3 separate regions of the Homo sapiens genome follow, and regions 1 and 3 are each linked to region 2. The links come from fine-mapping of genetic effects on gene expression. A gene starts in region 2. Each other region holds a variant in brackets. All regions are shown on one strand. Distances are from middle to middle.

Region 1 (8,187 bases), 680 kb before region 2:
ATAACTGAGCCTCAGGCCTAGAGAGAACCAGCTCAGACTGGAGCAGGGGGATGCATGCCTCTAGGAGGTCAATCTGTAAGCAAAAAGGAATACATTATATGATGGAACTCTTGAAAAAAAGAGGATAATTCAAAGGCAGACATTATAAGAAAAACAGGGAAACAATTAGAGATTCTCGTCAAACTAGTTACCAAAATGGACTTTTATTTACCCTCCCCTCTGAGAGGGGCCTGGTATTAGGAATGGTGACCAAGCTGGAGTTTAGTTTTAATGGCTTGGGTTAAAATTTTGTAATGAAAATATCTTTTTGTATTGTATGTGTGACTAATGGTAAATTTAAAACATTATAATTAATTCATAAATTTCAATCCAAGAACTTAGAGTTGGTTGTTTGATGAAAAAGTCAATAAAATAAATAACCAAATAAAAATTAAGAAATTTCACATATACAAAATTTGAAGTAAGAAAAGAGACATAATTACAGACACAAAGAAAATGAAAATAATTGTAATTCCCTTGGAGACACCTCAGCTGTCAATCTCCTCCTCCAACTTCTGACATAGGTATAAGCTATCTGGCCAAGTTGGGGTCTAGTCAGCACTACAAATATATAGATCAGTCTCCTGCCTCTGTGATCAAACCAGGGCTTTCACTGAACTAATTAATTCTGTAAGCTATTATCCGATCTTGGAACTAGTTACTAGCTGTTGAGTTGAGAAGGGAATTCGACATCCATTAAGTAGACAGAGAGTTAGGCTAAGAGCAAGCCACTTATCCTCTCGGCTAGCAAACCTTGATCAGAACATATTTGTACCTTGTTTAAGGACGAGAAAACATGCAATCTATAAATATACTACAGAACAGGGAGAAGGAAACAGAAGTCAGGAAACTTAGAGGCAATACCTACTTCTGAAAGTAATCCACTGCAGATTCTAGAGGAAAAGTAAGAACAAATATCTTGCCATACTAAAACACAAGAAGGCACAGCTTCCATAATTTAAAACCACAAAGACATAGCTTCTATAATTTAAGACTGGAAAGGGCATACACAAGGTGAAATGGTAATTCAGCTGGATGAAATAGAAAAGAATAATTATAAGAAAACTTAACACATAACAAGAGATGATCAGTTTGTGTGTGTATGGGTTCCAATAAAACCTTACAAAAACGGACAGAGACCAGACTACCCAAGGGCCATAGTTTGCCCACTCCTGATGTAGATGGTCACCCACTGTGCCTTTCATGGGGTTTCAAAAGATGACCAGTTTTTAAGGTAGTGAAGAAAGGGCTGGCCTTTCTTCTTGCTCCTTTCAGAAATTGCTGCAAATAATTAAAGACAGAGTACAATTAAGCTGGAAGATATCTGAAGCCATGAAACCACAAAATAGAAGTATAGTTAATATAAAACAGGTATCAAAAGATAAAAAGAGTGGATGCTCATGGCTGGCAGATTTCAGAAAAGTCCAAGAAGACATACTTCCTCATATCTTATACCGCCATATCTTCCCCATTTTTAATATCAAAGTCTAATTATTCCTCCTACTTCAGCCTCCCAAAGTGCTGGGATTACAGGCATGAACCACTGTGCCTGGCCTTGTTTCTTTCTTCTATCAAGGTGCAAGTATTATACTTTGATATGAAAAACAGTCAGTCATTCATTATAACAATGGGATCAGGGTATACAAGCTAGCATCGGTGGTTTTACTGGACTCCTTTCAACACAAGTCTCAAAAGGTAGGAAAGATGGGACCAGAAGAAAGAATCACATTGACAAGTCATTTTTGCACTGTAAGTCTGTTTTGCAAGGTGGGGAGGGGAGGAAAGAAATTCTGAAATGTAAACAACTCTGCAGCTTTGATCTTGATGGGCTGGAGAGAAGTAAAGGCTGAAAACTCACACATACAATCAATACCTTTCATAAGAGAATTCCTGCTAATCTAAAACTCACTCCTAATGCCTCATTGATATTAATATATCTACATAAACTTTCTGCGAAAAGTTTATTTAGAACAAACTCACCTCAATGATAAATAATAAGCAAAAAGGATCAAGATACTACAAGATAAAAGGAAGAAAGGAACAACAAGGCCAGGTGCAGTGGCTCATACTGGTAATCCCAGCACTTTGGGAAGCTGAGGTTGGAGGATTGCTTGAGCTTGGAGTTCAAGACCAGCCTGGGCAACAAAGCAAGACCCTGTCTCTACAAAAAATAAAAAAGTTAGCCTGGCATGATGGTGCATGCCTGTAGTCCCACTACTTGGGAGGCTGAGGTGGGAGGATTGCTTGAGCCCAGGAGGTTGAGGCTGCAGTGAGCCATGATCACACCACTTACTCCACCCTGGGCAACAGAGTGAGACCCTGTCTCACAAAAAGAGAAAGGAACAACAAAAACGAATAAAAGAAGAGCAGTAATAAAAAAAATGTTGCCAAGGAGAAGATAAAACTTGTAACCAAACATATCACCATAATCTAATGAGATGACCACATCTGAAAAACCAAAGTCTAATGTAGAATTAGCTATAAGAATTTATAGAAGACGTATGGGTCAATGGAACAGAATGGAGAGTTCAGAAATAAACTCTCACATTTATGGTCAATTGATTTTCAACAAGGGTGTCAAGATGACTTAATGGGAAAAGAATCATATTTTCAACAAATGGTGCCGGGACAACTGGATGTTTACATGCAAAAAATAAAAAAGAGGTTAGACCTCTTCTTCACACCATACACAAAAATTTATTCAAACTAGATCATAGACATATATGTAACAGCTACAACTATCAAACTCTTAGAAGAAAATATGGAAGTAAATGTGGCCTTGGGCTAGACAAAGCCTTCCTAGATGTGACATCAAAAGCACAAGTGACACAAGAATAAAAAGATAAATTGTATGTCATCTATGAGTTCATCAATTAACTCAACAACCCAGGAAACAATTACTGAAGTAAAAATAGGTCAATAAATGTCAACAAAACTGAACAACTAGAAGGAAAAATAGTTAGAAAACAAACTAGAACAGCATATTCAAGAGCTGTGTGACAAAATTGAACAGTATAATATATGTAAATGCAATACCAGAAGAAGAGAAAGAATTAGAAGCAATATTTGAAGACACAGATGATAAATATTTTTCAAAATTAATGATACCAAATTACAGATTGAATAAGCCTAGAGAATGCCAAAGT[A/AAC]ACACACACACACACACACACACACACACACACACACACACACAAAAATCAAAGTAAAGAGCTTGAAGCCATCCAGATTTTTTTAAAAAGATACATTATGTACAGTTGAATGCAAATGGGAATTACAACAAACTTATTGTGAAAAACTATGCAAGTAGAAACAATGGAGCGGCATTTTTAAAGTGCTGAGGGAAAAACCAATAAAACAAAATGTAATAAAACAAAAACAACAACCACAAACCCAGAATTCTATACACAGTGAAGATATAATTCAAAAACAGAAATAAAGACTTTTCAGAGAAGCAAAAACTGACAAAATTAATTAACCAACAGACTTGCACTACAGAAAATGTTAAAAAAGACACACTGTAAATATAAGGATAGAGATAGGTTGAAAAGAAAAGAATGGGAAATATATACCACACAAACATTAAGCAAAATAAATATGATAGTGCAGGTGTATAAATTTTAGACAATGCAGACGTTTAAGGCAACAAGTACTACTTCAGACAAAAAGGACATTTCACAAAGATGAAAGAATTGATTTAATAAGAATACAACCTTAAAGTTGTAAGCACCTGATTTTATATTGCCTCATTTATTTTGAAACATTCTTACTAACAAATACAAAAATCAAAATAACAAACTCAACAATCACAGAGATGTCACAGTTTCCTCCATGTCTGTAAGAAACAGATAAAATATCAGGAAGTTTATAAGGATTTTAAAAACATGATAAAGCAACTTGACATAATAGGCAAATATATGACACTCTACCCAATAACAGCAAAGACATATTTGTTTCAAATGCAGTGGGCCATTAATCAAATTAAATTATTCACTGGGCATATAGCAAGTCTCAACAAATTTCAAATGATTGAAATAATATAGAGTATGTTATGTGATCACAGTAAAACAAATAAATCAGCAACAGAGAGAGAGCCAGAAAATCGCCATATATTGGGAAATTAAGTAAAACACTGTAAAATAACTATGAATAAAACAAGAAATAACGTAAAATTTATAAAATATTTTAAACTCAATGATAATAAAAATATGACTCATCAAAATTTGTGATATGGGGTTAAAGCAGTATATAAAGGGAAATTTATGCTTTGTATGAACTTTTAAAAAGTAAGAAATGTTGAAAATCAATGAACCAAGTTTTAATCTCAAGAAGTCAAGAAGAAAAAGAAAACTGAATCCAGAGAAAGTATTGGAATAATAACAAAAGACCAGAAATAAATGAAATGCAAAGCAAAATAAAAATAAAAATTCAACATAGAAAATAAACAAAACAAAAAAATTTTTTTAATTCCATGACCTGATGAACAAAGCAAAAATTTGATCCTATGGTAGGATTAGTAAATTTGATGAACCTATAACAAAGGCGACAAACTTTTTTTTTTTATTATACTTTAAGTTTTAGGGTACATGTGCACTAGGGGGAGGGGCGAGGGATATCATTGGGAGATATACCTAATGCTAGATGACGAGTTAGTGGGTGCAGGCGATAAACTTAAAATAGATAAAATATAAATAACAATATCAGGTATGAAAACGGAGACATCAGTACAGACATTATAAGGATGATAAAAGAACATTACAAATAACTTACTTCAAGTAAATTAAACAACTTAGATGAAAGGGACATATTTCTAGAAAAACACAATTGACAAAAACTGATACCATAAAAAATATTATAATAGCATTAAATACCAAAGAATACACTTTACAAAAATGTGCAAGACCTGTACACTAAAATTTTACAAAAACATTGCCAAGAGAAAATTTAAAAGATGTAAATAAATAACTAAACCATGCTCATGGACAGGAATACTCAATATTGTCAAGAGGTATGCTCCCCCAAATTGATCTGCAGAATCAATGTAATCCCTATCAAAACCTCAGAAGATATTTTTATTGATAAAATTGACAAGATGATTCTAAAATTTATATAAAAATCAAAGAGAGCAAAGTTGGAGGAATTATACTAACAAATATTAAAACTTACTATAAGATAGTATGTTACTGGTACAAAGATAGACCAATAAGTCAATGGAATATAAGAGATCAGGGGTTGGCAAACTTTTTCTGTAAAAAGCAACATAGTAAATATTTTAGGTTTGTAGACACATATGGTCCATGATACATATCCTTATTTGTTTTTTTGCTTTTTTTTTGTTTTGTGTGACAATTCTTTAAAAATGTAAAAAAATTCTTAGCTCAATGCCATATAAAAACAAGCTGCAAATTTGGCTTGTGGATCATAACCTACCCCTGAAATAGAGTACAGAAACAAAGCTACAGTGATACAGTCATCAGATTCATGGCAAAGACAACAGTGCAATTCAGTGAGGAAATTATTTTTTTCCAACAATTGGTGCTAGAGCAATTAAATATCCATATGGAAAAATGAACTTTTATCTGCATCACTCCATCAAAATTAATTAAAAATGAATCATAAACTTAATTGTGAACAACACAGCAATCAGACTTCTAGAAGAAAATATTTAAAATATGTAGAAAGAAAATATAGAAGGATGGCATCATGTTCTTAGGATAGGCAAAAATTTCTGAAACAGAATACAAAAGGCATTAACCATAAAAAACTGAAAAATAAGAATTAATTAAATGTAAGAACTTCTATTAACCATAATGCACCCTTAAAGGAGTGAAAAGACAAACCACAGACTGGGAGAAAACATTCACAATATGTAAATCCAACCAAGGACTTGTATCTAGGCAAAATAAAGACCCATTCTGACCAAAAACTGACAGAGAACTTTTTACTAGCCAACACACACTGAAGGAAGTTCCAAAGAAGTTTCTTCAGACAAAAAGAAAATGATCATAGATGGAAGCAAGAAATGCAGAAAAGAATGAAAGAAATGAAAGGTGTAAATATATATATATATATAAATGATATTGATTATATAAAACAATAATAATGTCTTATGGGGTTTAAAATATATGTAGAATTCAAATAAATGACAAGAGCACAAAAGGTAGGAGTGAGAAAATGAAGTCACGTTGTTTGAAGGTCTTTGCATTGGGAGCCAAGATGGCCGAATAGGAACAGCTCCAGTCTACAGCTCCCAGCATAAGTGATGCAGAAGACGGGTGATTTCTGCATTTCCAACTGAGGTACCGGGTTCATCTTACTGGGGAGTGCCGGACAGTGGGTGCAGGACAGTGGGTGCAGTGCACTGTGCGTGAGCCGAAGCAGGGCGAGGCATCGCCTCACCCAGGAAGCACAAGGGGTCAGGGAATTCCCTTTCCTAGTCAAAGAAAGGGGTGACAGATGGCACCTGGAAAATCGGGTCACTCCCACCCTAATACTGCGCTCTTCCAACGGGCTTAACAAACGGCACACCAGGAGATTATATCCTGCACCTGGCTCAGAGGGTCCTACGCCCATGGAGCCTTGCTCATTGCTAGCACAGCAGTCTGAGATCAAACTGCAAGGTGGCAGCAAGGCTGGGGGATGGGTGCCCGCCATTGCTCAGGCTTGAGTAGGTAAACAAAGCGGCCGGGAAGCTCGAACTGGGTGGAGCCCCCCACAGCTCAAGGAGGCCTGCCTGCCTCTGTAGGCTCCACCTCTGCGGGCAGGGCACAGACAAACAAAAGACAGCAATAACCTCTGCAGACTTAAATGTCCCTGTCTGACAGCTTTGAAGAGAGTAGTGGTTCTCCCAGCACGCAGCTTGAGATCTGAGAACGGGCAGACTGCCTCCTCAAGTGGGTCCCTGAATCCTGAGTAGCCTAACTGGGAGGCACCCCCCAGTAGGGGCAGACTGACACCTCACATGGCCAGCTACTCCTCTGAGACAAAACTTCCAGAGGAATGATCAGGCAGCAGCATTTGCAGTTCACCAATATCTGCTGTTCTGCAGCCTCTGCTGCTGATACCCAGGCAAACAGGGTCTGGAGTGGACCTCCAGCAAACTCCAACAGACCTGCAGCTGAGGGTCCTGACTGTTAGAAGGAAAACTAACAAACAGAAAGGACATCCACACCGAAAACCCATCTGTACGTCACCATCATCAAAGACCAAAGGTAGATAAAACCACAAAGATGGGGAAAAAACAGAGCAGAAAAACCAAAAACTCTAAGAATCAGAGCACCTCCCCTCCTCCAAAGGAATGCAGCTCCTCACCAGCAATGGAACAAAGCTGGATGGAGAATGACTTTGATGAGTTGAGAGAGGAAGGCTTCAGAAGATCAAACTACTCCGAGCTAAAGGAAGAAGTTCGAACCAATGGCAAAGAAGTTATAAACTTTGAAAAAAAATTAGACGAATGGACAACTAGAATAACCAATGCAGAGAAGTGGTTAAAGGACCTGATGGAGCTGAAAACCACGGCACGAGAACTATGTGATGAATGCACAAGCCTCAGTAACCAATGCGATCAACTGGAAGAAAGGGTATCAGCAATGGAAGATGAAATGAATAAAATGAAGTGTGAAGATAAGTTTAGAGAAAAAAGAATAAAAAGAAACAAACGAAGCCTCCAAGAAATACGGGACTATGTGAAAAGACCAAATCTACAACTGATTGGTGTACCTGAAAGTGATGGGGAGAATGGAACCAAGTTGGAAAACACTCTGCAGGGTATTATCCAAGAGAACTTGCCAAATCTAGCAAGGCAGGCCAACATTCAAATTCAGGAAATACAGAGAATGCCACAAAGATACTCCTTGAGAAGAGCAACTCCAAGACATATAATTGTCAGATTCACCAAAGTTGAAATGAAGGAAAAAATGTTAAGGACAGCCAGACAGAAAGGTCGGGTTACCCACAAAGGGAAGCCCATCAGACTAACAGCTGATCTTTCGGCAGAAACTCTACAAGCCAGAAGAGAGTGGGGGCCAACATTCAACATTCTTAAAGAAAAGAATTTTCAACCCAGAATTTCATATCCAGCCAAACTAAGCTTCATAAGTGAAGGAGAAATAAAATCCTTTACAGACAAGCAAATGCTGAGAGATTTTGTCACCA
Region 2 (8,187 bases):
GAAAAGACAAACCACAGACTTGGAGAAAATATTTTCAAACTACATATCTGATAAAGGACTTGTATATAAGCAACTCTTACATCTCAATAGTAAGGAAGCAAACAACCTAATCAGAAATGGGCAAAATATGTGAGGAGACATTTCTCCAAAGAACATATACAAATATCTAACAAGCAAATAAAAAGATGCTCAATTAGCCATTAAGGAAATGCAAATCTAAATCACAATGAGATACTTCTCCACACCCTCAAGAATAGCTACACATTTGAAAAAAACAAAACAAAACGGGGAAATAACAAATATGGTGATGATGTGAAGAAATACATTGCTGGTGGTTCATATAAATCTAGTAACTGTAAAATAGTACAGCCCCTTGGGAAAACAGTTTGGCAGAAAATTAAACATACAGTTATAATATGACCAAGTAATTCCACTCATAGGTGTTTAACCAAGAGAATTGAAAACGAATGTCCACCCAAAAACTTGCACACAAACGTTCATAGCAGCTTTATTCATAATAGCCAAAAGATAGAAACAATCCAAGTGTTCATCAACTGATGACTAGATAGACAAAATGTAGTATACTGATGCAATGGAATATTACTCAGCTATAAAAAGGAATGAAGTATTTATATATGCCACAACATTAATAAACTTTGGAGACATTATTTAGATGAAATTTTCAGGATAGGCAAATCCATAGGCACAGAAAGTAGATTAGTGGTTGTCTGATGCTGGGAGTAGTAATGAAGACTGACTGCAGATGGGCAAGGAAGATGTCACTGACGTGATGCAAATGTTTTAAAATTAGATTGTAGTGATGGTTGCACCACCCAATAAATTTATAAAATCACTTTAAATATGCAAATTTTATGGCATGTAAATTATCCTAAATACAATATTTAAACACTGTGAGCATCAAGAAAAAAAGAGAACTTTCATCTCCTTACTTTGACAATTTATTAGGGATCATACAGAGGTCATTAGGCTGTTTGTTGTTGTTGCTGTGGTGGTGGTGGGTTGTGGTTTTCCCATGAGAGTCGAGGGTCATGCAACCATTTGGTCTTTTAAAATAAAAATTTTTAAATCAATTAAAAAAGAATATTGCTGGCTTGAAATTTGGAGTAGTCATGGGACAAAGAGAAGTGGATGGATTTTTTAAAATATTCAGGATGTAGAAGTGACAAGATTTTGTAGCAGTTAGATATAGGGAGTGGGGAAAGGTGAGGAGGCCTCAGACTGAGTATGCTTAAAGTTGAATTCCTGTTGTCCTCCCGAACTGGCTGTCCTGTGCTGCCAATCTCAGTGAATGGATCAGCATCCTGGCACAGAGTTGACATTCATTGATTGCCTTTGGAGTGAATGAACAGAGTATGATGAATAGAGTGAAAATATAGCTAAACAAGGCAGACACCAGGTCCTGCCAAATAGCCAATGCAAAACTCACCCTTCAGGTTGGCTCAGCAGATATCCAGCATAATTTTTTTCTCACCTTTCAAACCATTTGGGAAATCATGAGGTATTTTCCTCATCCAGAAGAACACTCACCTACATATCAGCCACTCCTTCCCTAGAACCTACAGGTATGGAGCAGGCTGGGTTTTTTCAAGAGCCTCTTATCCTGTAAATCTTTACACAGGGCAATGGCAGGTGCATGTACAGCCCATATGAGCCCAGGGGATGCTTGGTATTATAGAAAGGGGATCACAGTGGTGCCCAACTGATGGATCCGTGTTCAGTTTGCAGGAAGAGACTCTTCCCACCAAAGAGGTTTGTTAATCCTGGGGTCCCCCTCCCAGCCCCTGGAGGCATCAGATACAGCTGTCAGAAACATTGTAAACACCCAGTGATCCACTTGGCTGGTTTTACTGTTGTTCCCAGGGTTGACAAGCAGAAATACAGAACAAATGGTGGTTCCTGAAACAGAGGCCAAAACAAGGAAGTGATCTGTTCCAGTCCAAGCTTCCAAGAAATAAAGAACTAGGTGGGGCACACTAAACAAGCCCCCAGACTCAACCACCCCAGTAAACATTCCCTTCATCACACTGGTTATGAGATAAAGTATAAGTTTTTTAAGCCTTATTATAAATAACCTTACTTAACGTCTTCTGGTTGTTGTGAAAATTATAGTATTTTGCAAAATATATGTTCACCATTATCATTACCACCAGTTCCTTAATGAGGAGAAACCAGAAGTTGACACCAAAATGTTGATCCATAATGTTTATAGTCCTTCTTTGTCTTTATAGTTAATGTAAAATAAACTGTATGTAATTTTTACTACAGTGTGTCCTGAAAGGGCAAACCAAGCTACAAGCAACTCTAAAAGACTACTACTGTATGGGAGTGGATTATGAAAGTGTTTCTTAAATATGAGAGCTCAAGTTTTTCTTTCAGCGACTGAGTTAAAGCACGCAACTCATTTATCATGAGACTTTTGCTAGGCAGTGTACTATGTCCACTCAACACACATCATTTTAGGCAATCATCTGGTTAAAACGTTTAATAGTATGGCATTCACAAACCCATTCTTCAGAGTTGACATTCAATTAATGGTTTGAATGTCGTTTCCAGGGCAGTCAGGAGTATTTAAAGGCTTTTCCATTGTTTTCGGAAGAGAAAGAAAACTTCCTAGCCTAACTTACTTACCCAGAGCCTTGCTCCAGAGGGGGCAGACAAAGGGTAAAATCTGGGCAGAGAACATTAGTGGATATGAGAACGAAAGAAAGTGCTGCAAGATCTTGCAGACAGCTGAGTTCCACCTTCCACTCTACTGCCGAACAAAGTGAGGCAGGAAGAGGGTAGGGACTCGCTGAAAGCTAAACACCAAGTCAGTGACAGATCCAGGGCTGTAAAGTCCGACCGAGATTGAAACAATGTACACTGGGCGTCAGTCCCAACGCGAGCTTGCTCCAGCTCTTCCAGCTCTTCCTGAGCGCTAGGCCCATCCGGCCTCACGCTGATCTCCGGGCAGACTCTGTCGCGCAACTGGCACAGATCGTGACGACAACCCTGCGGCAAGGCAGGAGTGGCCTTCCTCTCCGCCAGGGTTAAGGTGAGTACCACCGCCCTTGGGCCCAGCAGCCCGGGTGAGAGCCTCCGCCGCCCACTGCGACAGGCCTGAAAGCGAGCGCCTGGGTAAACCCACCCGTAGCACCCATGGGGACACCCCTTCCCTGACCCACGGGACGGAACCCACCTGTGCTGGAGGTCGTGACTGCTAACTCCGCAGAGTGGGCAGAATTCCAAGCAAGGAGAGTCTCGGGAGGCAGCCTTTCACCCGCCTTTTGCCTTTTCACCCCCAAAACTGTCGGCCCCACGCTCCCCTCCCCCAGCCCGCTCGGGCCCAGCGGAGAGCCTGTAGGCCCCGCCCCACTCCTTCCGGCCGTGCAGGGTGGGTGCCTCTGGCGCCCGGGACTTCGCCCGGTGCTAGGGCGTCAGTCTCCCATTCGGAAGGACTGGGCCGGGGCACTCTATTCAATCGCCTTTAGTGAACATACTTGAAGCTATAGGTGCAGGGATGAGAAAAAACAGGCCCATAAAGCTATAAAACCTGGGTCCCCTGCCTGCCATTTCAGTGCTCCTCCCGAGTCCTCCCACTACGCTTCTATTTATGGTAGTTTATCCAGGTTTACTAGAAGTAAAATTCTACTACCTTTCCACCATTTTCTTGAGTTTATGGAAGTCATATACCGCTCATTACTCCCATCGATTCAGCTGAGCATCTTGAACCCAGGGTCCAGATACAGTGCTACATACAGTGAGCACTAGAAGGGAATACCCATTAGGAATGAACACCTTATGCAGGTAAAAATTTAAGAACGATACATATTACAAAGAAGGACCAAAAAGTATACTGAAATAGTATATGCAATGGAAATCCAAGGCAGATTTAAAAAATGAGAGTAAGAACAACAAAAAAAATCAAATGCATATATACTGAAAATGGGAAATTGTGCAGTATTATATTTATTCGAGATTAAAAGTGTTAATCTAATGTCAAAAAAGCAATAAAGGAATTGGTTTGTAGAAGTCAGGATCAACAAAAGAAGAAAAAGCCTCCACATCTTTGCCCTGGAATTCCTTCTGCCATGAATGCTCTTACCCGGCACTTGTTTATTTGGAAAACGGCTACTCGTTATTTTTGACTCAATTTAGATAGCACCTCCTCTGTGAAGCCTTCCCTGTCTTTCCCAGATAAGTTTGTATATTTTTTTTCCCTAGGTCCAGTATGCCCAATGGATCTCGTACAGGCCTCAAGAGTACCACTTACTCTAGATTATAATTTCTCTTTCTGCATGTCTTTGTCCTCTAATGAATAAGTAGCTTCTTGAGAGCAGAAAACTTGTGTTTTTCATATTTGTTCTCCAAGCACAGAGTCTAAAATGTCTATATATTTAATAAATATTTGTTAAAAAATTTCTAGAACCAGTGTGTAAACAAAAGGACATATCCAGAGTGTGAATGTAACATAAAGAGGAAAAACTAAGTACAATGAGAATCTAGATTTAGTCTGGCTGGTATTCATTCATGCAATAAACATTAATGAGTGCCTACTGTATGCCAGGCACTGTACTAAGATCTGGGTGTAAAATGATAAACAAAGCCCAGATATAGTCCATGCCCTTATGCCCTTATGTTTAAAGAACAAATTGGAGTTGGCCAGGCAAATGGGAAAACAAAAAAAGTTTTGGGCAGAAAGAACAGCATGATCCAATGTCCTGTAACAGGAAGATCATAACTGTAGCAATTAGAGTGAATGAGCTCACTTAAAGCTAAGCTGAAATCAACACAAAGTACTCAGAAAAGGCAACAGGTTGATAGACAATACCTGTTTGTTTGAGTCAGTAAAAGAAGCAAGTTTCCTTAATAATAGTAACCAACATTTATAAAATGTGCACTATATGCTAAACACTGGGCTAAGTGTTTGTTTTATATCAAACACTTAAGGTAGATGATATTATTTCTACTTTAAGGATAAGGCAACTGAGGCACAGATAGGTTAAGCAATTTTCACCAGGATCACATGGCAGATAAATTTCAGAGCTGAGATTCAAACCTAGGTAATTTGGCTCCAGACTCTAGGGAGCCTGGATATTTTACTTTTAATAAAATATAAATTTTACTTGTAATAAAATAAAAGTCAGATATTTTACTGTTTCCTCTCTCTGTGTGTGTGTGTGTAGCAGGTCACATGGTGTATGGCACAGAGTGGAACTTCTTAATATTTTTGGAATGAATGAATAGCTGAATAAAAGCAATAGGTACAAATGTGCTAGAAAACAAAATAGAAAAAAACAATAGTATCTGGGTCTTTTTATGTTCCCGCCACACCAGCTGTTCCTAGAACACACCAAACTTGTTCTTGTTCTGCTTCCAAAATATAATCTGCTCATGCATTTGTCCCTCACTGTACTGCTAACATTCCGGACCAGAGTTTGGCTTTTTTTTTTTATCTGTGAAGGGTCAGCTGGTAAATATTTTAGGCTTTTTGAGTCACATACAGTCTTTGTCTCCAGGTATTAAATTCTGCTTTCATAGAGTGAAAGAATTCACAGACAATACATAAATGAATGCGTGTAGGTATGTTCCAATAAAAGTTTATTTACAAAAACAGGCAAGAGGCAGGATTTGCCCTGTGGGCAATAATTTTTAGACTCTTGCTCTAGGCCAAATTATCACCATCTCTTGCATGGACTACTGTATTAAATGATGTCTGAGAGCCATCATCTTTGACTAACATCTACACCTTTGTTTTATCAGCCTCTCAGTGAAGCTTTAGTGATCTCTAATCATATTCATAACCTTGAGTTCTTGAAAGGTGGTTAAAACTATGTGTTAATTGTGATTGTGAACTTCGATTTATCAAAGATGGTCTTTAAAAGAACTACTAGTGATCTTTGAAAGAGTTAAAAAATTAAAGAAGGAAGATTTATTATAAAAGTAGTGACTTTTAGCCAGAAAATAAATATTCTGGACACAGTGCAATGTTGAATTTGGCTGAAGCTTTGGTCTATGACAAGAATCCTGCTAGGTATTCTATAGAGAAACAAATAAATGCTAAAACTTTTCAGAAATCATCTAGACCATACAAAATTTTCCTCACCTATTCATGGACAAAAATTTGGTAAAGCTGAAGGGTATATTAATTTGTGTTTCGGTTTATGAACATTTCTGACTCTGGGGATATGAACATTTCTGACTCTCAACAGAAATGTGATTCAGCATAAACGTAGTAACCTATACAATTAATTTTGCAGTGAAGAAGTATTAATTAGGACTCATTAGTTAAAAGTTATCAAAACCTACCTGAAACTAACAAGCAAAAGAGAGAAATTTATGGGAAGATAATAAGGTGTTTCACAGAACTCAAGAAGGATTAGAACAATCAAAACTTTTAAAAAGGCAAGGTATAGTTAGGCCTCAAGAATCGTCAAAAACAAGGATTCCAGTGACATTGACTCTATCATTCTTTTACCCCTATTTTTCCCTGCACATTTATCTGGGGTCTCTCTCTCTCTCTCTCTCTCTCTCTCTCCTCTCTCTCTCTCTCTCTCTTCTCTCTCTCTTCTCTCTCTCTCATCCCCTCGTTCCCTTCCTTGCTTTCCTCCCCACTCCTCTCAAGCTCTTTTTGTTTCCCAAGTCCATGTAACAGTAGATACGGTTACGGACACCTTCCTAGATTTTCATATTACAGATTCAACCACTGAAGAGAGACACTAAGCCATATCAGGTCCTCTGAAAAGCAAATCTACAGATCTATCGTGGGTAATGGCTGGCAAGATAAAGAGGAGATTACAGTACAGCTCTATGGAAGTCTCAACCACCCCAACAGAGACTGCTAATTAGAGGAATCCTGCGTTAGACAGAAACAGCCCTAGTACACCTCTTGTGCTCAGAGATTGGCTGGAGATGCCTGGGAAGGGAATGGCCTTGGATCAAATGATGCAAAAATAATCCCAAAAGTGCTCCAGCTGGAGACTGTTAGCTGACTCCACTCCTCATAGTAGGTTTTCCCTTGAAAGATCTGAGAGGCACTCCCTGGTTACCATAGACCTTTATGGTCCTATCTCCATAAATCTATGAGGGATTTATTGGCCAAGTTTGAGACTGGTGGCCACCTAAGACCAATCAACTGTAGCTAGGTGAGCGATGTCACATATACCAAAGGATAATTTTCTCAGTTTTCCTGGGGCTGAGGAATTCCCTGTAATGTGCTAAAACCACAACAGTTCAGGGCAAACTAGGATGCTTAGTTATTTTATTAGTACCCATGTTAATAGGGGTGGGAAAGTTAAAACCGTCCAGTAATATCCTACTATATAAACAATTGTACTTTACTGTATTTATGGAGGAAATTCTATGTATAGTGGTTTTATTGGATTAGGATAATTTATAAAGGTCTCAGAAGAATTCCCTTGAAGATGACAAAAATTTCATACTTTAATTCTTGCATGCTGGTTCCCTTGTGCATTTATACATTCTTCCTCCATCTAGAATGCTCCTCTCACTGCAACCTCCCTCTCCTCAACCTTGTCCTCACTGTTAGAAATGCTTCTTGCCCATTTCTCTAGTTTCCACATGGAATTATTTCTCTAAATTAAGATTAAATCACATAATAAATGCCAAGCACATATCATAGGACATGGCATAAAATAGGGGCTTGTATCAGTCAAGGTTCTTAGTTGCATGCAACAGAAGCTGAAGCTGACTGATTTAAGCAGGAAAAAAAGTTATGTTGGGAATGACACTGGATCAGCACTCTTGCCGTTAGAAACATCATAAAACTGCATAAAATATGCAAGGAAACTGTTTAAAGATATTGAGCAATAGTCAGCCCATGATTATGATCCCCAGGAAAAGAGAAACTCACAAATCAAGCCCCAAGACTGCCTTAGCTCTTTGCCTGGTGACTATTTTCTGATCCCAGCATCAAGAGCTAGATTCCAAGCTGAGCTTGCAGTCTCATTGAACGAAGGAGGAAAAGATCAGAGCTCAGGGTAGCAGAAGCATCTGAAATCTATGGAGCAAGGCATTAGAGAAGACAATCTGTGCAGATGTTGGGACGGGTAAACATATGTCTTGGGGTTTCCAGCAAAACTTTAAAAAGAGGAGGAGTTATAGAACTTCTTGGTTTCAAGACTAACTATAAAACTACACTTATCAAAACAGTGTGGTATTAGAGTA
Region 3 (8,187 bases), 53 kb before region 2:
ATATCACAAGGCAAGTGGAGGCAGGGCGAGATCACAGGACCACAGGACGGAAGCGAAATTAAAATTGCTAATGAAGTTTTGGGCACCACTGTCGTTGATAACATCTTATCAGGGGACAGGGTTTTGAGATCAACCGGTCTGACCAAAATTTATTAGGCAGGAATTTCCTCTTCCTAATAAGCCTGGGAGCGCTATGGGAGACTGGAGTTTATTTCACCTCTGCAATCTCGACCATAAGAGACAGGTACGCCCCGGGGGGGCCAGTTCAGAGACCTACCCCTAGGTGCGCATTCTCTTTCTCAGGGATGTTCCATGCTGAGAAAAAGAATTCAGCGATATTTCTCCCATTTGCTTTTGAAAGAAGAGAAATATGGTTCTGTTCTGCCCAGCTCACCGGCAGTCAGAGTTTAAGGTTATCTCTCTTATTCCCTGAACAACTGCTGTTATCCTGTTCTTTTTTCAGGGTGCCCACATTTCATATTGCTCAAACACACATGCTGTACAATTTGTGTAGTTAACGCAATTATTACAGGGTCCTGAGACGATATACATCCTTCTCGGCTGACAGGATTAAGAGATTAAAGCAAAGACAGGCCTAGGAAATCACAAGGGTATTGATTGGGGAAGTGATAAGTGTCCATGAAATCTTTACAATTTATGTTTAGAGATTGCAGTAAAGACAGGCATAAGAAATTACAAAAGTATTAATTTGGGGAACTAATAAATGTCTATAAAATCTTCACAATCCACGTTCTTCTGTCATGGCTTCAGCCGGTCCCTCCGTTTGGGGCCCCTCACTTCCCGCAACAACCTATAGAACTGTTAGCTACTAAATGGATGTTGTTTTAAACCACTAAGTTTGTGGTAATTTGATATGCAGCTATAGAAAAATAATGCAATGCTGTATTACTTTTCAAAAATTCCTCATCATCACGTCTTCAAATATTGTTTCTGTACCATTCTCTCTCCTTTTTTTCTAGGACTCCTATTGCACATATATCAGATCTTTACACATATTAGGTGCCAGACACTGTTAAAGGTGCTGAAAATATATCAGCAACCAAAAATATTCCTATCCTCATGAAGCACCTTTTAATGACATCCTGATCCCCCCTACACCTAAACTGTTTCCTCCCACAGAGTTCCTCCTCACAGTAAATTCTAGTCTCATTCAACCAGTTGCGTAACTCAAAAATCAGTGCTTCAAACTCAATACTTCATTAAAAAAAGTTTTCCCCCCAGTCAATTATCAAGTCATGATAACTTTTATCCCCTAAATGATTCTCAAACTTCACCCACCGTAGTGTATCTCTACTTGCCAACATGCCTGTCCAGGCCCATCATTATTTCTCACTTAAAGACTGCAACAGCCTTCTAATTGACCTATCCACTCTTGCCCTCCCTTCAAACTTTTTGCACATGGTAGGAAGAGTTAACTAAAATATGTCAGTGTGTCACTCCATTTGAATATCTCCCTAGGCTTTTCAATGTAAAATCCAATGTCCTTAATGTAATGCCTTCTACTACCTGGTTCTGAGCTACCTCTCAGCCTAACTTCCTGCTACTTACCTCCTTGTACTTTATTGCTTAACCCCAGATTTACCATGTTCTTTCATATTTGAAGAAACTCATGTTCATGCTCTTTGTTCAAACTGGAAGCCCTTCCCTTCCTATTCTGCCTTTTATTCATCTTTTAAGAATCAGTCTAGATATCATCTCATCTAAGAAGTCTTCTCTAAACTCCCAGAATAAACCAGTAGCTTTCTTTTGTTCTCTCATAATAGTCTTTATGTGTTTCTTCTTAATACATTATGTTGAAATGATATGTTTATATGTCTTTCCCCCTAATAATGCTGGATGTTCCTCAATAGGAAGGCCTATCTGTCTCATTCATTTTGATACCCTAACATCTAGCATGGTTCCTAGTACTTAGCAGAACTCCATAAATGTTTGTGAAAATTGAATTGAATTATTATTCTTCCAGCATCATAGCCCCTTTAAATCTAAAATGTTTGCTTAATCTTAATGTCTGCTTAAGATATTTTGCTTAAGTAAATAATATTGACTGGGTCAATCCAAAGGTAGGGTATACAGCAGATCATCAAAAAATTCATCCTTTGCCTATGATATGTTAATCAGCACTCTTTGAATATGGTGATTTAATTAATTAATACATAATTATATTACTTTTATAACCCATATTATCTTGTCCAGAAGGTTATCATAAATGACTTATTAGTCTTGCTGAAATTTCATTCATTCATTTAAGATATGTAATTATGTCTGCCATATTTCCATAAACTACCTCTAATAGCCTTGTCAGAAATAAGAACCAGGTTTGTGTTGAATGGCTTTGTTGATAACTGTAATTTTTTAAGTACTCGCTTATTTGAAAATTTGTTTTAGAAGCTAACTTAAGAGACATTTAGCTCACTGATTAGAAGATTGAAGACTCCCCCTTTTTCTTTGTTAGCCTCAGTAATATATTTATATAAATCCAATCTTAAAGCACCTTTCCTATTTTCCTTAATGCCTTCGATTACTGAGAGTAGTTTAGTAATATCAACTGAGTTACAATTTACCCATTCCAGGACACATGTACTTTTTCTTTCTGAGAGTATAGTTAAAATATTGTTCTTGTTGTCTTTACAAATATGCATTTCTACAAGCCTGAGGTAATTTTGGACCTTATCCTTCCAAATACTAACCCTTTAGGCACATGTCACCAGTTATATTTATCCTTGTGTTTGTGCCCTTTTTCCTATTTCTTATATATTATCTTTTAAAAAAAAGAAAGTATGAACTCATTGTAAAACTTCCTATGTGGCCCCATGGTTTTCCTCTTTTCTCCTTTAATAGAATAATTTGCTGTTTCATTGTCAAAATTATGTTTTTGAGAGCTTCCCAACCTTTAGAGTCTAAAGCCATCGTAATGTAAATTAAGGTCCAAAAAGTATCAATCATAATAACAGAAACTTTTGGAGATCAGCCATAGCTAGAAATTCTAGTCAGAGTAGGCAATTACATAATAGGTCAATCTGAATCTTTTCATGGTTATTACTAAGGAAGAAGCATTACCTCCTGAAAGGCTTAAAGCCAAGAGTGCATTTAGCTCCTGTCAATTTTTCCTTCCAAATGTCTTTCAGATTTGTCCTTCTCTTTCCATTCCTATAGATTCCTTCATCACCTCATACCTGGCCTATTGCCATAGACTAGATGGTTTCCTTGCCTTCAGTCCATCCATATTCCAATCCATTGTCCATACACTATTGCCAGATTAATCTTCTTAAAACACTTTCATCATGCCATTCTCCTGCCTAAGACTTAGCTCAAATGTCACCTTCTTCGTAAAATATTCCCAGCTCCCTTAGGAAGAGTT[A/T]GCAACTGCCTACTCAGTGTTTTCACAGGTCTCTGTGCATAACCTTATTAGTGCACTTAAAACATGTATGACAATCATTTCTTTAATTATTTTTCTTACCTCAATTGCTATGAGCTCCTTGAGGAGAGGCAAAGGTTTGAGCCATCTCTTTACAATTGCACTCAGGGCGTTACATAATCTATCTTGCCCCACCCATGTCAGGACCATCACATATACTGCCTTCTCTGCTTACCATGCTCTCCCCTTCATTCTTCCTGCTCGTTCCTTAGGTCTCAGATTAAATATCAATTCATTGAGAAACCTTCGCTGACACTCTTATTAACTAATTAATTAGTTAATCATTTGAACAAATATTTGTCGGGTGTCTACTTTGTGCTAGACATTGTTTTAGGCACTAGGGATATACCAGTGAACAAAGAAGACAAAAAGTCTTGCTTTCAAGTTTATCTTCTAGTGGGAGAAGGTAGATAATTAAGTATAAACATAATAAGTTATATATAGTAAGCTATAAAAAATAGCAGGATAAAGCAGTGTGCTGGAAGTTGGACTTTGAAACATGGTGGTCAGGGTAGGCCTCATTAAGAAAGATGACATTTGATCAAAGGAGGAGTTAGTCATAAGGATATCTGGGGTAAAGTAGACTAGGCAGAGGGGATAGCCAATGCAAAGGCTCTAAGTTGTGATTATATCTGTTGTGGCCAAAAGAAAAAAAAAAGAAAGAAAAAACATTGTAGCTGGAGCTCACTAAGCAAGAAGTAAAATAATAGATGAAGTGAGAAAGGTAGGAATAAATAGGTCAGGTCAGATCATGTAGGGCCTTATAAGCTAATATATAAAAACTTTAGTTTTTACTCTGATAGAAATGATGAACCATTGTAGGGTTTTAAAACTAATAGGTAACATGATGACACATTTTAAATGAACTGTTCTGGCTGTTGTATTGAGAATAAACTGTAAACAGGCCAAGGAAAGGAGGGATACCTGTTAGTAGGCTATTACAGTACTGGATTTATTGAAGTAATCCAGGCAAGAAATGATAGTGACTTAGACTAAGGCAGTAGCAGTGAAAGTGGTGAAAAAGGGTCAGAGTCTGTTTTTTTGAAGGCAAAAACGACAGGATTTGCTGATGAATTGAAAATGGGGTGTGAGATAAAGAGGAATGTATTAGTCCATTTTCACACTGTTATAAAGGACTACCTGAAACTGGGTAATTTATAAAGAAAAGACATTTAATTGACTCACAGTTCTACATGGTTGGAGAGACCTCAGGAATCTTACAATCACAGCAGAAGGTGAAGGGAAAGCAAGGCACGTCTTACATGATGGCAGGAGTGGGGGGAATTGCCACACTTTTAAACCATCAGATCTCATGAGAACTCACTCACAATAATGAGAACAGCAAGGGGAAATCCACTGCCATGATTCAATCACTTCCCACCAGGCCCCTCCTCTAACATTGGGGATTACAATTAGACATGAGACTTGGGTGGGGACATACAGCCAAACCATATTATCCCACCCCTGGCCCCTCACAAATCTCATGTCCTTTTCACATTTCAAACCCAATCATGCCTTCCCAACAGCCCCCAAAGTCTTAACTCATTTCAGCACTAAAAAGTCCAAGTCCAAAGTCTTATCGGACACAAGGCAAGTTCCTTCTGCTATGATCCCATAAAATCAAAAACAAGTTAGTCACTTCCAAGATACAATGGGGGTACAAGCATTGGGTAAATGCTCCCATTCCAAATGGGAGAAATTGGCCAAAACAAAGGGGCCACAGGCCCCACACACGTTCAAAACCCAACAGGGCAGCCATTAAATCTTAAAGCTCCAAAATAATCTCCTTTGACTCCATTTCTCATATCCAGGGCATGCTGATGCAAGGGTTGTGCTCCCACAGCCTTGAGCAGTTCTGCCCCTGTGGCTTAGCAGGGTACAGCCACTGAGGCTGCATTCACGAGCTGGCATTGAGTGCCTGTGGCTTTTCCAGGTGTACAGTGCAAGCTGTTGGTGGATCTACCATTCTGGGGTCTGGAGGATGGTGGCCCTCTTCTCATGGCTCCACTAGGCAGTGCCCAGTGTGGACTCTGTGTGGGGCCTCTAACCCCATATTTCCCCTCTGCATTGCCCTAGTAGAGGTTCTCCATGATGGTTCTGCCCCTGCAACAGACTTCTGCCTGGACATCCAGGTGTTTCCATACATGCTCTGAAATCTAGGCAGAGGTTCCCAAACCTCAATTCTTGCCTTCTGTGCACCCACAGGCCCAACACCACATGGCAATTACCAGGGCTTGGGGCTTGCATCCTCTGAAGCAATGTACCATGGCCCCTTTAAGCCACAGTTGGAGCTGGAGTGGCTGGGATGCAGGGCACCATTTCCCAAGGCTGCACAGAGCAGGGAGGCCCTGGGCCTGGCCCATGAAACCTTTTTTTTTTCTCCTAGGCATCTGGGCCTGTGATGGGAGGGGCTGCCGCAAAGGTCTCTGACATGCCCTGGAGACATTTTCTTCATTGTTTTGACCATTAACATTTGGCTTCTCTTTACTTATGGAAATTTCTGCAGCAGGCTTGAATTTCTCCCCAGAAAATGGGTTTTTTGGTTTTTTCCTTTCTATCATATATTCAGGCTGCAAATTTGCCAAACTTCTATGCTCTGCTTCCCTTTTACATATAAGTTCCAATTTCAGACCATTTCTTTGTGAATGCACATGACAGTATGCTGTTAGGAACACCCAGGTGCATATAACACTATGCTGTTAGGAACAGCCAGGTTACTTCTTGAACACTTTGCTGCTTAGAAATTTCTTCCACCAGATACCCTAAATCATCTCCCTCAAGTTCAAAGTTCCACAGATCTCTAGGGCAGGAGCACAATGCTGCCAGTCTCTTTGCTAAAGCATAGCAAGAGTGGCCTTCACTCCAGTTCCCATTAAGTTCCTCAGTTCCATCTGAGATCATCTCAGCCTGGATTTCACTGTCCAAATCACTATCAGCATTTTGGTCAAAACCCTTCAACAAGTCTCTAGGAAGTTCCAAACTTTCCCACATCTTCTTGTTTCTGAACCCTCCAAACTGTTCCAACCTGTGCCCACTATCCAGTTCCAAAGTCACTTCCACATTTTCAGTTATCTTTATAGCAATGTCCCACTCTCCTGGTACCCATTTTCTGTATTCGTCCATTTTCACACTGCTATAAAGAACTACCTGAGACTGGGTGATTTGTAAAACAAAGAGGTTTAATTGACTCACAGTTCTGCATGGCTGCAAGGCCTCATGAAACTTAAAATTATGGCAGAAGGTAAAGGGGAAGCAATGCACACCTTACATGGTAGCAGGAGACAGACAGAGCAAAAGGGGAAGTTCCACACTTTTAGGCCATCAGATCTCCTGAGAATTCACTCACAATCATGAGAACAACAAGGAGAAAGTCCACCCCCATGATTCAATCACTTTCCATCAGGCCCCTCCTCTGACATGTGGGGATTACAATTTGAGATGAGATAGCAGGAGTGGGGAACAGAGCCAAACCATATCAAGGAATGAATGATAACCCAAGGTATTTGGACTGAAAAACTGAAAGGATGGGGAAGACTGCTGGAGGATGTTTGGAAAAACAGATTAGAATTTTAGTTTTGGATCTGTTAAATTTGAGATGTCTATTAGATTTTTAGGTGGAAATATCAGAGAGGCAGTTGGATACATGAGTCTTGAGTTCAGGGGAGAGATATGAGCTGCAGATACAAATTTGGCAGTTGTTCCATAGTTGGTATTTAAAGTCAGGAGACTGGATGAGACTACCAAAGGAATTGGTATAGACAGAGAAAAGAAGATTAACATTTGTTAGTTTCTCATAGATCCTTTTATTCTTCAATGCACTTATTACAACTTGTAATTATTTGTTTATTTGTTTTTATTTCTGTGATTGTTTGGCTAATGTCTGGTTGCCTTATTACAAGAAAATGTTCCAATGAGAGCAGGGTCTATGCCATTTTCTCCATCACAATCAGCAAAATAATATGTTGGATTGCATGAATTAAAAGAATGTTCCTTTTTTTCAAGGACTCAAAATTAAATGCTCACAAGGGCTAGGCAAGTAACATAAATAAGTCGAGTATAAGAGACAATGTGTTGTAGAGAGAGGGGTGAACTGAAGTGTCCAAAAATCATAGCCACTACTTAGTTCCAGCTGATTATGGACAGATAGGCCTAGTGTTGTAATCTTCAGAATTTTTGAAATGAGCCAGATATACAGATTATATATGAAATCTCCCAAATTGTAATGCCAACAACTGTATTAGTTCAGGTCTTCTAAAAAAGCAGATGCCATGATAAAAATAGATGTGCAAGTAATTTACTGGGGAAAAGATATGTGAGGGGAAGTGGGAAGAGTGTCTAGACTTGGAGGGTCATCAGACCATGGTACAGGTCCTATCCCTGTGGAAGACAGAAAGAAGGAAGCACAGTCTCAGACTGCAATGCAGATCTAAGAAAGTTTCAGGAAGGCTGTTGGGGAATACTCAAGCCAAAGGTGGCCATTAAAGGAGTCTGGGTCTCCAAGGAATGGGCTCTCATTAGTATTCTTGCCATGGTCATTCAGTAGTTTGGAACAGTTGATGGGAAGTGTAGCCTTGGAAGAAAGAAACAATGATGGATGATAGAACACAGCAGCTGGGCCCTCAGTCAGCTATACTCCCTTTAGTAGGAGATATGAGTGGCACATTGTGGTGGGCATCACAATGACTAAATTCAACAATGCCACAACAGTATGAGCCAAAAACACATCTTCAAGCCATATTCAGCCCCAATGT

Alleles and levels. Alleles are on the strand shown, and positions count from the first base shown. SD is a standard deviation of normalised expression in the study named. Not every link is listed here.
With allele T in place of A in region 3, the expression in sigmoid colon of the gene that starts at base 3,360 in region 2 is lower (small effect, 0.19 SD a copy in GTEx).

Evidence for each region. PIP is the estimated chance that this variant, and not a neighbour inherited with it, causes the effect.
Region 1: its variant is fine-mapped to the expression of TMLHE in iPS cells (PhLiPS, PIP 0.95).
Region 3: its variant is fine-mapped to the expression of TMLHE in sigmoid colon (GTEx, PIP 0.96).

The regions. Positions count from the first base shown.
Region 1 is chrX:154,932,796-154,940,982 of GRCh38, forward strand. All of the region lies in intron 13 of F8 (coagulation factor VIII), which reads right to left. Among named protein-coding and RNA genes, the nearest start is that of MIR1184-1, 49 kb to the left of the region's middle. The variant A/AAC (reference allele first, on the strand shown) is at 3,186.
Region 2 is chrX:155,609,593-155,617,779 of GRCh38, forward strand. TMLHE (trimethyllysine hydroxylase, epsilon) reads right to left here and starts at 3,360. Exons shown (of 8, transcript NM_018196.4): 1 at 3,200-3,360. SPRY3 (sprouty RTK signaling antagonist 3) reads left to right here and starts at 2,994. Exons shown (of 3, transcript NM_001304990.2): 1 at 2,994-3,055.
Region 3 is chrX:155,556,593-155,564,779 of GRCh38, forward strand. The region is part of intron 1 of TMLHE (trimethyllysine hydroxylase, epsilon); the gene reads right to left. Among named protein-coding and RNA genes, the nearest start is that of SPRY3, 52 kb to the right of the region's middle. The variant A/T (reference allele first, on the strand shown) is at 3,380.